2 separate regions of the Homo sapiens genome follow, and region 2 is linked to region 1. Evidence: fine-mapped expression QTL. A gene starts in region 1. The other region holds a variant in brackets. All regions are shown on one strand. Distances are from middle to middle.

The links.
Region 2: its variant is fine-mapped to the expression of OTUD3 in whole blood (TOPMed, PIP 0.98).

Annotation. Positions count from the first base shown.
Region 1 is chr1:19,877,657-19,885,656 of GRCh38, reverse strand. OTUD3 (OTU deubiquitinase 3) reads right to left here and starts at 3,262. Exons shown (of 8, transcript NM_015207.2): 1 at 2,923-3,262. The coding sequence starts at 3,143. All of the region lies in intron 1 of LOC105376823 (a long non-coding RNA gene), which reads left to right. RefSeq lists a silencer at 2,719-3,058 and an enhancer at 3,429-3,478.
Region 2 is chr1:19,909,900-19,917,899 of GRCh38, reverse strand. It overlaps OTUD3 (OTU deubiquitinase 3), which reads right to left. Exons shown (of 8, transcript NM_015207.2): 8 at 4,955-8,000. Among named protein-coding and RNA genes, the nearest start is that of PLA2G2E, 9.7 kb to the left of the region's middle. The variant A/G (reference allele first, on the strand shown) is at 3,803.

The DNA.
Region 1 (8,000 bases):
TGGTGAAACCCCATCTCTACTAAAAATACAAACAAATTAGCTGGCTGTGGTAGCAGGTGCCTGTAATCCCAGCTACTCAGGAGGCTGAGGCAAGAGAATTGTTTGAACCCAGGAGGCAGAGATTGCAGTGAGCCAAGATTGTGCCACTGCACTCCAGCCTGGGTGGCAGAGTAAGACTCCGTCTGAGGGGGGTAGAAGAATCTGTTGACACCTGCCAACCCATCACATACACAGGAAACACCATCCCCTGCAGTGATAAAGTCTGTCATCACCACATTCGAAAGGACTAGGATACTGACGAGGGCTGAACCACAGTCCAGCTAATGGAACTCATGTGAAGAACTTGTGAACAGAAGGTGGTTAGCTCCATGAAGCCCACACAAGAGGAAATACGATCATTTTATCTAACACTGTCCGAATAACAGGAACCTTGGAAGAGAGACATGAGCACTCCAGTCAAGCTGGTTTCTGGAGCCTAGCTTCACTGCCCGTTACTTCTACCCTTGTGCCCTACACTACCCGTCACCCTAAACAACCTGTAGATCTCCCAAAAACATCGTGTCCTTGTGCCTCTATATATACTCCTTCTCAGATGGGACCGTTCTCTTGGTGTACTCCTATTGGTCCTTCATGACCCAATCAGAGCATGACACCCTCTGAGAGGCATCTAGCAGTGTATCCAATGAGTATTTACCGAATGAACGAGAAGGACTTCCTGGCCAATTCATAGAGTAGTAGCCTTTTCCTTCTCAATAGTACCATTATAATCAGTCACTGTTACTAAAAATATATCAAACTATATTTTAATTATTTGTATCATCTGTTCTCAAAGTGTGACTCAAGGGACCGGAGATGTGGGAAGGTCTCTGATATGCTTTCAGGGTATCCGTGAGTTCAAAACTAAGATGTAATGTACCTTTTTCATTCTCATTCTCTCACAAGTGCAGTGGAGTTTTCCAGAGGCTACCTGATGCATGAAGTCATCACTCTGATAGCTAATGGAATGTGTGTGTATTCTTGTGTTTTAACTTTGTTTTACTTTCTAATACAGTAAATACTCATAGCTATAACCCATATAAAGTTCTTTCGGTTTCTCAGTAATTTTTAAGAATGCCAAGAGATCTTAAGACCAAAAAAGCTGAGACCCACTGTTACGTGTTTCTACCTTAGGCTATGAAGTCCTTAAGTATCTTAGTCATCAACATATTCCCAGCACCCTACTTAAGGTGTGCTGAATTAACTTGAAAAGTATGCTGTGTGTGTATGGGGGTGTGGGGATAGGGAGCAGAAGTAGTACCCCCAAAGTTTCCCATAACCTTATGAAAGCCCCCTCAAGAGTTTACAACTCCCTGTGCTAATTCCTCCTCATAAGTAACCTTCTATTGAGTACTTCAGTTTCCTGGGCACCCTGACATTGAGAATACCATACCCAGTATAGCAGACACAAGCAATCCAATCATTTGCAAGGAAAAGCCCCAATGTCCCACGCCAATTCCACTGTATTCAATTGGTATTTCTGTTTCTATAAGGGTGTCTTGGGCTTATGCTTAGGCTAGCTGACCTCCCTCTATTATTTTTATATTTCATTCAGCAAAAACGTACTGACTGCCTTCCATGTACCAAGCACTTTGCCAGATGATGGTGAATAAATGTAATCAAGTTCCAACTGCATCTTAAGCAAAAACAGCAACGCAGCAAAGTGTGGTGAACTCTTTGTGAGCAAAAAGAAATCCAATCTGCCTGAAGCAATGAGCATAAACAGGAACGGTGGGAAAGGGAAATTAGGACCAGTTCACAGTCTTAATCAATAAGCTGCAATGTAATGTGAAAATTTTTAAAACACCTTATTCTGCAGTTAATATCTAAGGCAATTCCTGGCCGGGGGTGGTAGCTCATGCCTGTAATCTAGGCACTTTGGGAGGCCGAGGCAGGAGGATCGCTTGAAGCCAGGAGTTCGAGACCAGCCTGGGCAACACAGCAAAATCACCGTCTCTACAAAATAACAATAATAATGAACTAAGGCAATTCCTTATGGTCTTTAATTTCATTTTAGTCTTCCCTCTGCAGGATCTGAGCACTCAAATACGGGGAGGAAAAAAACAAAAGCCAGGCTGTTATTAACACTCTCTCTTCCAAAGTGACACAGCTGACAACCAGACCCCTTTTTACCTGCCCCTGCAATGGGGATCCTAACTGTTCTCCCCTCTTCCTGACCCTTTTCCTTCTTCCATCCATGTTCCTGGAGCCATATCCCCTTTCTTGAAGCTAATTTTCTTCCTCCTCCCCACTCTCCCCCTCCGCGTTCCCTAAAGAAAGCTGGACCTGGATCCAGTCTAAGTCCCAAGAAAGCTTGGGGAAGCACCTTTGCTTACAGAGAAACTGAGGCCCATGGAAGGAAGAATTAGAGAAGCTGCCTTCAGCTCAGTAAACAGGCGACCTAATTTCACAAATGTAAATGGGGGCACCACCCAAAAACCAAGGACTCAAAGGAGGCAAAGCGTTCTACCAAGTGGGGCTTACTCAAACTCCTTCAACTGGTCTTATCGTCATGATAACTGTTTTTCCAATGCCTGGCTCCATCTCATTCCTTCAGAACTCAGCTTAAATGTCACCTTTGAGAGAGCCCTTCCTGGCCACAATCCAGTGGCCCTGCTCCCATATACGGTCTCAGCACCCACTTTCTATTTCGCTCGCGGCGTCTGCCATGATTAGGACCCTTTGGGATCCCCGCGAGCGTCTCGGGGCGAGGGGCTTGTCCGCCTCACTCGCAGCTGGACGCCCTGCACTCGGAGCGTGGCTGGCTCGCGGGAGGCGCCCGGGCCGCCCGAATGAATGGATGGATGGACGCGAGCGGGCAACGGTCGCCAGGCCGAGCCCGGCGCGTCCCCCGGCGCCGCCTCCCTCGCTCCCGGCCCGCCTCACCCGTCCCCCGGCACCTCCCGCAGCTTCAGCCCCAGGGCCTGCAGCTGGTTGGCGAAGCTGACGAACTCCTCCTCGCAGCCGCCGCCGCCGCCAGACTCCGGCCGATTCCGCCGCTCCTTGGCCAGGGCCCGGCGCGCCGCCCGCTCGTCCCGCTTGCGCTCGGCCTCGGCTTTCCGGCTGCCGCTGCCCGGCCGGCTCTTCGCCGCCTGCTTTCGGGACATGGCCTTAGCCTGCAGTCCCCAGCGGCAGGAGGGAAAGGCGCAGGACCCCCCAGCGTCCGCCTCAAGCGTTGGGAAGGTAAAACAGCGCGGGCAACGGAGCCCGGCGACGACTACGCAGCAACCGCGCCTGCGCCGGCGCCCAGCACCCCGGTCACATGATGGAATCCCCGCCTCTTTTGCGGGGCTCGGCGAGCAGACGCCATAGAGAGCTGGAGGGGCACCCATCTTGGTTTGTTCTATTCCGCCCTCTAGTGGTGGATGGTACTCAACGTGAGTGGCAGGAGCGACCGGAGAGGGACCAGAGAGAACAAAGCAGGAACAAGTCAAGCAGAGAAATTAAAGATGATAGAAGAGTGGAACACAGAGCAGCGGCAAAAGTTAGGACCGGAGATGAATAAAAACGATTTAAACTCTTGCTGCGAGCCTACTACAGTTGGATAGGCACTTTCACACGGCTCATTCTTGTTTAATTATCCCCAAATTACAGGAAACTGAATCTGAGTGGTTAAATAATTTCAAGATCACACAGCTAAAAGGCAGAGCTTTGCCCTGGCTCCAAAGCCCGCATACTTGTTTATTTAATCCTGCCCTTCATCTCTCCGCCTTCCTTCGTAACTCAAGGGAGAGGTCGCCCTTCTGTCCAAGACCACTGGAAATCCTAATTCCATCCTAGAGCGACCCACCTAGGTTTGCCTGGACTAGAGGTTTTCTTGGGATGCAGGACTTTCCGTTTTAAAACTGAGACAGACCAGGCTGGGCGTGATGGCTCACACCTGTAATCCCAGCACTTTGGGAGGCCGAGGCGGGCTGACCACAAAGTCAGGAGATGGAGACCATCCTGGCTAACACTGTGAAACCCCGTCTCTACTAAAAATACAAAAATTAGCCGGGCGTGGTGGCGGGCGCCTGTAGTCCCAGCTACTCGGGAGGCTGAGGCAGGAGAATGGCATGAACCCGGGAAGCGGAGCTTGCAGTGAGCCGAGATTGCACCACTGCACTCCAGCCTGGGGGACAGAGCGAGACTCCATCTCAAAAAACAAACAAACAAAAAAACAAAAACAAAAACTGAGGCCAGGTGCAGTGGCCCACGCCTGTAATCCCAACACTTTGGGAAGCCGAGGCCAGGGGATCGCCTGAGGTCAGGAGTTCGAGACCAGCCTGGCCAGCTGGCCAAGATGGTGAAACCCCATCTATATTGCGTGAGGCTGAGGTTTGGAGTACAAATGAATCTGTCACCCAGGTAGTGAGCAAAGTACACAATACACAATAGGTAGTTTTTCAACCCTTTCCCCCAACTGCCTCCCGACTCTTGTATTCCCCAGAGTCTATTGTTCCCATCTTTGTGTCCATGTGTATCCAATGTTTAGCTCCCACTTATAAGAACGTGCAGTATTTGGTTTTCTGTTTCTGCCTTAGTTCACTTAGGATAATGGTTTCCAGCTGTATCCATGTTGCTGTTCTCCCCTCTTCCTGGACATGATTTTGTTCTTTTTTATGGCTGCATAGTATTCCATGGTGTATATATACCACATTTTCTTTATCTAATCCACTGTTGATGCGTACCTGGGTTGATTCTATGTCTTTGCTATTGTGAATAGTGCTGCAGTGAACATACGGGTGCATCTGTCTTTTTGATAGAACGATATATATTCCTTTGAGTATAGACCCAGTAATGAGATTGCTGGGTCGAGTGGTAGTTCAATTTTTAGTTCTTTGAGAAATCTCCAAACTGCTCTCCACAGTGGCTGAACTAATTTACATTCCCACCAACAGTGTAAAAATGTTCCCCTTTTCCCCACAGCCTCAGCAACATCTGCTATTTTTTCTTTTTAACAAAAGCCATTCTAACTGGCATGAGATGGTATTTCATCGTGATTTTGATTTGCATTTTTCTGATGACAATAAGAATGCAAAAGAGAGTTGTAAAGATTAAATAAAAATGTAAAGCCCCAGGCATGAAGTAAGTACCTATTTAATGAAGTTGTTTGAATCAGTTCTCTGGAAATCTCATGAGCTCAGGGGCAAAGACTTTCAAACTTTAGAAACCAGGGAAGAAAGGTTTCTCACCAGCAAATAAGTAAATACAGACTGCTAACATATTGATAGAAAAGCGAACACTTGCCCGTCTTGTAAAAATCTTTTTGGCTGGGCGTGTGGCTCACGCTTGTAATCCCAACACTTTGGGAGGTGGAGGCGGGCGGATCACCTGAGGTGAGGAGTTCGAGGCCAGCCTGTAATCCCAGCTACTGGGGAGGCTGAGGCAGGAGAATCGCTTGAACCCGGGAGGCAAAGGTTGCAGTGAGCCGAGATTGCGCCATTGCACTCCAGTCTGGGCAACAAGAGTGAAACTCCTTCTCAAAACAAAAACAAAAACACAAACAAAAAATCTTTTCTGGCATAAGCCCTTAGCCTTTAGCCCACACACAGATTTTGAATGGGCGAATTTCTCTTCTCAGCGGAGACCTGTGTTAGACAGTGTCTCTAAGTGCAAATCAATGCTGCCTATAAATTATATTTAAAGGCCAAAGGGAAGGAGTATAGTACTTGTAAATAAAATGAATGCTCTGCCCACTTCGCTAGAGTTAATTAAAAGAATCATTGACCCGCACAGTGGCTCATGCCTGTAATCCCAGGACTTTGGGAGGCCAAAGTGGGGGTATTGCTTGAGCCCAGGAGTTCAAGATCTGCCTGGGCAACAAAGTGAGATTCCCCATCTCTGCAAAAAAATTTTAATTAGCTGGGCATGGTGATGCATGCCTGTAGTCCCAGCTATTCGGGAGGGGCTGAAGTTGGAGGATCACTTGAACCTGGGAGTTTGAGGCTGCAGTGAGGTATGACTGTGCCACTGCACTCCAGCCTAGGTGACAGAGCAAGACCCTGTCTCAAAAATAATAATAATAGTAATCAAACCTCATTGGATGGCAGTATAAATTAGTAAAAAGTGTGACTAACAGAATTTTAGTGAAGAAATGCAGCTTTAGGACTTTCAAGAACATACCATCAAGGGTATGGGAAAATGAGAACTCTCGCACACTGCTGTTGGGAGGTAAATTTATCTAGCCACTTTGGAGGGCAATTTGGACTGTATCTGGTAACTTTGGGGTTTTTTTTGTTTTTTTGTTTGTTTGTTTGTTTTGAGATGGAGTCTTGTTCTGTTGCCCAGGCTGGAGTGCCGTGGTATGATCTCGGCTTACTGCAACCTCTGCCTCCCGGGCTGAAGAGATTGTCAGAGATTCTCCTGCTTCAGCCTCCAGAGCAGCTGGGAATACAGGCACACACCACCATGCCCAGCTAATTTTTTTTTTTTTTTTTTTGTATTTTTAGTAGAGGCGAGGTTTCACCATGTTGGCCAGTCTGGTCTCGAACTCCTGATCTCAGGTGATCCGCGTGCCTCAGCCTCTTACTGTGCTGGGATTAGAGGCATGAACCACTGCACCTGGCCTGTATCTGGTAACATTTTAAATGTCTAGTGTCTACATCTCGTGATCTATCCTAAAAATAGAAATATTACATCTCCTCCTAAACTCCTCGTGTGTATCCGTATTCTAAATTTTCCTCGTGCAAGACGATGAACCCCAGGGTATATACTCCGGACAATGTAGCTCCTTCAAAAGTACACTCTCAGACGCAGATAGTCCTAAAGCAAATTACATGCACGTGCACTAGAAGGTATGTCCAAGTGTTGGCAGTTGGCCCGTTCAGGTTCTTGACTTAGCCACGTAAAAGAATTTGAGAGTGAGTCCAAAGTACTCCAAAGAGCAGGCAAAGAAGTTTATTGCAAAGCAAAAGTGATACAGGAGTTAAGAAGAAATCGCGTAGGCAGATAGTAAGGGCATGGGAGTCCTCGGTAAGGCTTTTCTTTTTAATGAAAAGCAGCCCCAAATCATCTTCTAACAGAGTAGCCTGTAAAGTGGAGCTGCAGACACAAACAAGCTGGGAGCTTGCACGGGTAAATGCCACAGGGAACTACCGACTAGACATGTTCAAGATGGCGGCTTCATCGCCTCTTCTCTGCCAGCCACGTGTACAGTAAGGAGCAGACAAGATAGCCTGCCAAGGATAATTTATTTGCATAATAAGATTAGGGTGGGGAACCAGCCTTCCCTGCTATGTAAATGTCACACCTGATTGAACCAATCTGTGAGCCCTATGTAAATCAGACACCGCCTCCTCAAGCTAGACTATAAAATCCAGTGCATCACTACCAACAGTTCTTTTCCACTCGGAGACACCTCTCTCTCCTGAAAGAGCTGTTGCTCTTTCTCTTCTCTTCTGCCTATTAAACCTCAGCTCCTAAACTCCTCGTGTGTGTCCGTGAGCTAAATTTTCCTGGTGCGAGATGACGAACCCCAGGGTATATACCCCAGACAGTGTAGCTGCTTCAAAAGTACACTCTGAGAGGCAAAGCAGGCTGCTAAAAGGGAGAGGCAGCCCCTAGTACCTTACGGGGAATTCCCTTTATGGGAGCTGTACATGCATATTCATGAAATACTGCTGAGGTCAAACATGCAAAGACAGACCTGCAGTTGGCACATGCGCTTAGCATCGACGTGCTCTAACACGCATAACGTGTATCCTTAGCATATAAAACCACCTAGGGGTGTGTTTTTTACTTTTTTGTTTTTTTGAGACAGGGTCTTGCTCTGTCTCCTAAACAGGTGTGCAGTGGCGCCATCACGGCCCACTGCAACCTCCACCCCCCCAGGCTCAAGCCATCCTCCTGCTTCAGCCTCCCTAGTAGCTGGGACTACAGGCGCAAGCCACCACGGCCCGCTAATTTTCTGTTTAATTTTTATAGAGACGAGGTCTTACTATGTTGCCCAGGCTGCTCCCGCCTCAGCTTCCCAATGTGCTCAG
Region 2 (8,000 bases), 32 kb before region 1:
ATGATCTTAACAGTTGTATAACTGTCCGACGAAACAAACATTGAAACTTAGGAGCAAGATTCCAGCGCAGCCTGCTGTGACCCCTGCTACTCACCCACCCCCACCCACCAAAACCAAGCTGTCTTTTGGCCACAGACCAGCCTTTACTCTTTGCTTTCCCAGGGCTCGATAAATGTTTTGGGTTTTTTGTTTTGTTTTGTTTTTTTGAGACGGAGTCTCGCTCTGTCGCCCAGGATGGAGTGCAGTGGCACGATCTCGGCTCACTGCAAGCTCCGCCTCCCGGGTTCACGCCATTCTCCTGCCTCAGCCTCCCCAGTAGCTGGGACTACAGGCGCCCGCCAACATGCCTGGCTAATTTTTTGTATTTTTAGTAGAGACGGGGTTTCACCGTGTTAGTCAGGATGGTCTCGATCTCCTGACCTCGTGATCCGCCTACCTCGGCCTCCCAAAGTGCTGGGATTACAGGCGTGAGCCACCGCGCCTGGCCAATAAATGTTTGATGACGGGATCAAGGGGCCTGCTTAAATCCTGTTTGCCTATGTGTGCGTATCTAGAGAACCCTTGATACCCAGCAGCAGACTTGCAAAAGAGACTGAAAAAAAGGAAGGGAGAAGCCTGAACTTGAACTGGGAGGTTCCAGGTAGAGCGCTTTGTTCTGCCGCTTTAGCAGCAGTGGCTCTGCTTAGACCTTTGCTATTCAACGTGGTCCATGGGCAGGGGCAGCCGCAGAAGCAGCAGCAGGGATCCTGTTCAAAATGCAGAATCTTGGACCTGACCCCAGACCTGCTGAATCAGAATCTGTAAGTTAACAAGCCCCCCTGATGATTCGTGTGCACATTAAAATCTAAGTGCTGATAAATGGAGTCTCAGTCTCTGCATTTGTCAAATGGAAGTATGACATTTCCCCAGCAGGCTGGTTATGGCAAAGTTTGAGATAACATGCATGAAAATGTACAAATAATGGCTAGCACTGAAAAATCACTCGTGTTCTAGGAATGAATGAATGGATAGTCATTAACAATAGCTAACACTTGCTGTGCACTAGGCATTTGCCAGGCACTGTTGTAAGTGCTTTATGTGTGCTAATTCATTGGATGAGTAAAGTAGGCAACGGGACTGTGTCAAAGCTGGGGAGGGGACATTCTTACCTAAATGTTTCATAGTTTGCCTCTCCAATTTTGATGAGAGGATTTGGATTGGTTTTGCTTTTGTTCCTATTTAGCACCTAACAAAAGCTATGCATGAAGTGCAAAGGTAAAGACCTTCCTCAATTAGTGACCAGAAATCACAGTGGAATTCCCAAGTTCAATGAGGAGTCTGATTAGGATTTCCTGGACATGCATCTGCTTCACTGGGGTTCTTTGCAATGTCACCACCAGAGAACTGAATACTAAAGTTAATTCTTTCCTTCAATAAGTTTTATGCAAATTATGCTTCTGGTCTTTTCCTGGATGCTGGAGATAGACACGAATCAGACAGAGTCAACCAGCAGACAGAAAACAGCAATAATTCTACACTAGCAAGTAATGTGACACCCCTAACAAGAGAGTATCAGGACTAATGGTTCTTAAACCCTCCATCCTTCATCACATCTCCATCCTGTCCACTGATGCCAGCTTCATTTTCCCAGAGCCTGATTTTCATCATGTCACTCCTCTGCTCCTGAACCATCAGTGACTCCCCATTGTCCACCAGCCCCTGGTATTCCAGGCTTGGTGTCATCTGCTTTTCCAGCCTCTTATGCAGCAATATCTATTTACTAAGCTCCTCTGCTGTCCTGCCTTCATATCCTTGTGCAGTAGCTTCTCTCAACCTAAAAGCCTCCCTTGCCCACAGGCACATCACCACGCTAAAATCCATGGGCTTAAAGTGAATCCCAAATGTCGTCTCTTCCTTTATATTCAGAGACAGGGTCTCCCTCTTGCCCAGGTTGGACTGCAGTGGCACGATCATAGTTCACTGCAGCCTTAACCTCCTCGACTCAAGCAAGCCTCCCACCTTAGCCTCCCACGTAGCTGGGACAACAGGTGTGTGCCATCAATTCTGGCTAACTTACTTATTTTTGGTAGAGACCGGGTCTCGCTATGTTGCCAGGCTGGTCTCAAACTCCTGGCCTCAAGCAATCCTCCTGCCTCAGCCTCCCAAACTGTTGGGATTACAGGGATAAGCCACCCTGCCCAGTCCCAAATGTCACCTTTTCTATGATGCTGTTTCAATTGGAGCGGATTTCACCCTCCTTGAACTGCCAAGCTGTGTTTATACCTTTCCTAGAACTGCTTATCCCGTTATTTGGGTCCTTGCATGGTGGCGGCAGACTGCTCTGGGTTCAAATCCTGTCTCTGCTACTAAGCTGTGATCTTGGGACAATTATTTATTCCTGAATAGAACCATCAGCCTCACAGGGTGGTTTTCAAGTTCAAATGAGACCATGTATCCAAAGTGTCCGGGGCATGCTAGCTGCTCCATCTACGCTTGGCCACCTTCTGTATTTTTGCTCTCCAATTGCAAATGTCACACAGTAGATGCTAAACAGGTACCTGTTCAATTGAATTCTGCGCTAATGTCCCCCAAAGGCAGAGATAGATGGTGCAGCATTTTTCCAGGCAGGCGCTACCTGTAACATTGCCAGGTTAGAATGCACACACAGGCCAACTCCAGACACTAAAAAGCCGTCAGGCAGATCTTTGTTGTTTTGGGGTTTTGAGACAGGGTCTCACCCTGTCACCCAGGCTGGAGTGTTGTGGTGTGATAAAGCTCACTGCAGCCTAATACTCCTGAGCTCAAGTGATCCTCCTGCCTCAGCCTCCTGAGTAGGAGGGACTACAGACAGGCACCCAGCCCCAAACCCCAGTAATTTTGTGTGTGCATGCATAGAGACGGGATCTCGCTAGATTGACCAAACTGGTCTTGAACTCCTGAGTGTGAGCAAGCCTCCTGCCCCAGCCTCCCAAAGTGCAGGGATTACAGATGTCAGCCACTGCACCCAGGCCTGATCTTGAGAATCCATTCAGCAAGCACAGCACTACTCTTCCAGTAGTGAAAGGCACATGAGAGGTGTTTCAAGAAGTTCCCAGTCTTTCTCCAAACTGATTATACATCCATAATAAGCTCTGTCCTAAACACTGGAGCATACCCATCCCACTCCTAGGTTTTGCTTGCGCTGGCCATTCAGTCCAACATGTCTTCGCTCCCTATTTCTGTATCCTGTCTCCCCTTTCGTGCCTCGTCCAAATCTCACTTCCTCCACCAAGCCTTCCCGAATTCTCTGAACTCACAGCCCTCTCATCAGTACCTCCTTTATGGCATGTGCTCTCTCCTGGGTCAGTGACGTGTCCACTTTCATTCCCGGACTGGAGGCTTTTTGAAGGCAGGATCCATGACTGTTTCAATGCCCAGAAATAAGGACCCATACAGAGTAGAGGTTCACTAGATGTCAGATGGATTCTTGGATGTTTAGATGAATAAATTGAACAGAAACAATCCTCTGGGGATACCCAAGTCCTTCTACCATAGGGAGGTTCAGACAAGTTTCTCCAAGAAGATAGGAAATGTTTCCTTCTGCCAAGCCAGAATCTGTGAAGTGACAGGACTGGCCTCAAGCCTTTGCAACCAAGTTCTAAATCTCTGCATCTCAATGGTCTGAGAGTGCCCATTCCATCAGCAAAAACCATTCTGTCCAGCCAAAACCATATTGGAGCAGAGCTTTTTATGAACTGTGTCTCAAGACACACACTCTTGTTTCTGTGCATTGGAGGAAGGGAAAGGCCAGAAGCCTGGGGTGGTGACTCGCTGATGCAACTCT[A/G]AACACCCAGGTTTTCAGCCAGGCTTTCTCCAAGGTGACCATGAGCGGTTACCAAGAAGGGACAAAGGCACAGCCACTTGTCCCTACCTGGCTCAAGAACACTTCTCTGTCCTTAAAGACTCATCCTATCTCCCACACAGGATCTTACAGGTCACCTGGTCCAACGCTGCCCAAACAGGAAGCCCCTCTAATCCCTAGCAGCAGCCACCTGGCCCCAGCTGAATCCCTGGAATGGGATTAAGGAGGCCATGGAAGTTTTCCAGTGTGCGGGCAGCACCTGGATTGGGACATCACTTTGGACCATAGCAGATTTCCTGGAAGAATCTCAGGTTAAATGGGGTCTGGAATCTGGGCCTCACAGGCTCAGGAACCAGACAGTGTGTGTCTATCCAGAGATGATGGGTCTCTCAGTTGTGGACTGAAGAAGAATCACACAGAGAAGATCACTTGAGAGATTGTGGGAGAATCTGCTTGCAGAAGCTAGAATATTCTTGACTTTCATCCAGAAAACCATCTAGTCCTTTTTTGTGTCAAGGCAACAGGGAGCCAATTCAGAAGGCTGCTTGTTGAATACAAAATGAAGAATGGGAGAATGGGAGTCTCAAGGTCAAAATCATGACATGGTGAGGTCTGCCGAGCCAGAGCCCTTGTGTGGATGGGGCCCCTGCTGGACGCAATGAAGGACTCCCTTCGCTCTGGTTTCCTGTGGACCCTTCTAGGTGAGTTGTGCCCCCAGATGGTACTGTCTGTGCCTTGGCAGGGAGCCTCCTCCTTGAATGGGGTCAAACAATCTTGAGAGTTCTAGAGGAGCCCAAAGTGGCCGCTGACAGACAACTGCTACATATTTAAACAGTTTCAAACTTATCAAGAGATGCTCTCAGATATCAGGCAGAAATCTTAAGTGTGTAGTCCTTAAGAATGACCCTGCCATTGTGTTTGGTGGCTGCATTTAGCTGCACTAAAGCAAAAATCAGCTGTTCTAAGCTTAGTCAGATCCCAAAGTACTATTATACACCTAGAATACTCAATCCAGCACACGCAAACACGCAAAGCTTCCACACAAAGGTCTCCAAAAAGGACATTTCCCAGCACACTCAGCCTCCTTGCATTCACTCAAACGGTGGTCAGATACTGATAAAAACAACTTAAAACTTTGTTTTTAAACTAGAATTTATTGGTATACAAAACTCCATTTCATAGATAAAGTGGCACATCTTTGCAGCTTCTATTGCACCAAGTATCGAAGATTAAAAACACAAAAAAAGAAACATTTGGTTTTGAAAACACTGCAAATAGCCAAGTACAGTACTTTGGTAAATAAAAAATAAAATGGTTCAGATGAACACAATCCGTGGAAAGAAACAATCTAGGGGGAAGGAACTATGGACATCAGACAATGGTCACAATTCTCACCATCGAGCTCCATAGATAAGGCAAGACTTGCTAAGTCTATGGATCACGACCCCATGGAGGTCTTAAGTATCTCCAGACTGAAGCTAGAACAAGTATAGTGCAATTAGAAAGAGAGAAGGCCCCTCCTCCACGGATACATCCACCCCTCTGTAAAGGAGACTGACGCATGCCAACACTTCTACATGGGAAAGGGGAGCCCCCGGGTGTGACGTCTGACTCCTGGCCCTTTTCTTCTTTCCTCTGAGCTTAGTGCTGGTGGAGGCTCTGGAAGAGGCACTGGGGAGGCCAAGGGCCCTTCCTACTATGAAAAATGAACTGTAAGAGTGGGAAAATGTGTGAAGCCTCTTACCAGTACTGCTCGAGGGACCTGCCAGGGATCAAACCGCCAGCTGAGGTCTGTGGCTGAGCTCACATGATTGTCATGGATGGCTGGCAGCCTGCCGCAGGCTGACACGCCAAGGATGAGAGCCAGGCCACAGAGAGTCTGTCCGGCAATCGCCGCCAGCCGCAAGGACTGGCAGTGAGCAGCAGCAGCTCTGGATCACGGCTATGACCTGCTTAGAATAAATTCCCTATGCAAAAGTTCGTAGTTTTACAGAAATAGATTCTTTACACTGGTACCAGCCCCTTCTCAAGTAATTCTGCAAGGATGCTAAACATTTTCATGGAACCACAAAACAGTCCTAACGAGGACAGTAAAGAGAGGGACTCTACAAAGCAGCTGCTTCAAAGACATAGGTCAGAGCCTGAGGTTTTAAAGGAATTTCACCTTGGGAGAGAACTTCCAGGCCAACCACAAGGCACCGCTCTTTCCGGAGGTCCCCATCAGCGGTGTGCGGTAAGCTCTGCATCCTAAGTGCACGTGGTGACTGGTGCTCCGTGTTCTCTCCACGTTACAAATATGACTGTCCCCTTTCTAATATGCGATGGCAGACGTCGTAATTTATGCCATCTAGATCTTCAAATCAATGATGTCATTAAAAAAATACAATTTACTGGCCGGGCAGGGTTGCTCACACCCGTAATCCTAGCACTTTGGGAGGCTGAGGCGGGCAGATCACAAGGTCAGGAGTTTGAGACCAGCCTGGCTAACATGGTGAAACCCCGTCTCTACTAAAAATACAAAAATTAGCCAAGCATGGTGGCACACACCTGTAATCCCAGCTACTCAGGAGGCTGAGGCAGGAGAATCGCTTGAACCCGGGAGGTGGAGGTTGCAGTGAGCCGAGATTGCCCCACCACACTCCAGCCTGGGCAACAAAGCAAGACTCTGTCTCAAAAAAAAAAAAAAAAAAATTTACTTTAGAGCCAGGAAAACATAACTTATAAAAAGTCCATTATTAAATCACCTCAGAACAACTGTCAAAGGCCCCGGAGTTTTAGCAACACTTGTTCTGAAAGCTGTGAATAATGAGAATGGCAAAACAGAAAAACGGCATCAGACTGAGTCTAAAGATTTAACATGGCTAGACAGAGCCTTGAGGTAAGAAAGTGAAGAGCTACGCATCTACCCAAAACGGGAGTCGAAGAGGGCCACTGACGCAACACATTAAAATCAGGAAGCTCCATTCTCTTCCCCCCGCAGAGATCCTTTTGGTCAGGGTAACTTTTAGTCACCTCTGACTAGGAATCCAAGTTTCCTTCAACTGACTGAATATTTCACAGAGGTAAACTGATAGCATTCTATGCTGACCCAGTAAAACCCAGGCAGAGTCTACAGAGTTTCTCAGAATTAGAGAAATTGCACATTGACTACAGGGACTCACTACTAGTACAGTTCAGCGCTGAAGTCCACCTGATGCTACCTGTGTAATATGTGAGCAACTCCCCGACTGAAGGTGGCCCTCCTCCCACCCCACCCCCGACAATCACATCATTTCACACTGAAGCAGCTCCCTGGGGGAAGCAGGGCAGGCATAATAAATTACCCATGGAGAGGCTCCCTCCCAGCCAGCTCCAGCTGCTCCACAAGGGAGATCCCACTTCCCAAGCCCTCAGAATCAAACTGGCATTGGAAGTGTTTTCAGAGCTTAATAAAGAAACTACAGACAACTTCGACTAACATTTAAAATTCTTTCTGCCACAATTTCTCAACCATACTTTGCTCCTGAAAGTGTATGTTCATTATTATTGAAAAACTAAATACACACATACATTCTAACTTTCTAATATCTCCTAGTGGCAACTACATTATCTAGAAGTTATGGTTCTATGCTGCTTTAATACATCTACCTCTCTAGTTCAAAGCTGTTGCCACTAAAATGGTATTTATTTTGACCTCTAAAAAAAAATATTTTCAAAATCCGTAAAACCTTTATATACCGTTTATAAGAGCAGTAAGCAGCTATGCACCACTGCTCCATCCCCTTTCTCCTGACCACACTACAAGCTACCAAGACAATCTCATGTAACATAAATCTCTGCCAGCCAAGATGTAACACAGAGGTTAAGACACATTCAGTTCCTAATAAAGAGTTCACAGGAGCACCTGTACTAGAGTAACAGCTGCTGACAACAGTCATCCCAGGACTAGACATACTGGGCCTCCACTCGGGCTGCCAGTGAAGGAATTTTCAAGTGCCCACTGAGGCAACTAAGCATGTTGATTCCAACCTTCTCATGTACCCAGTGAGACTGAGGCAGTGAAGTCTAAATTGAAACCATTAGCTAGAAGGTATCACTGAAGTTGGATGCATGTACCCGATTCCTAATAATTAACACACTAAACAGACCAACTGTAACTGAAAAGCTGTGAAACCAGTAGTAAAATTACTAAAGCCGTTTG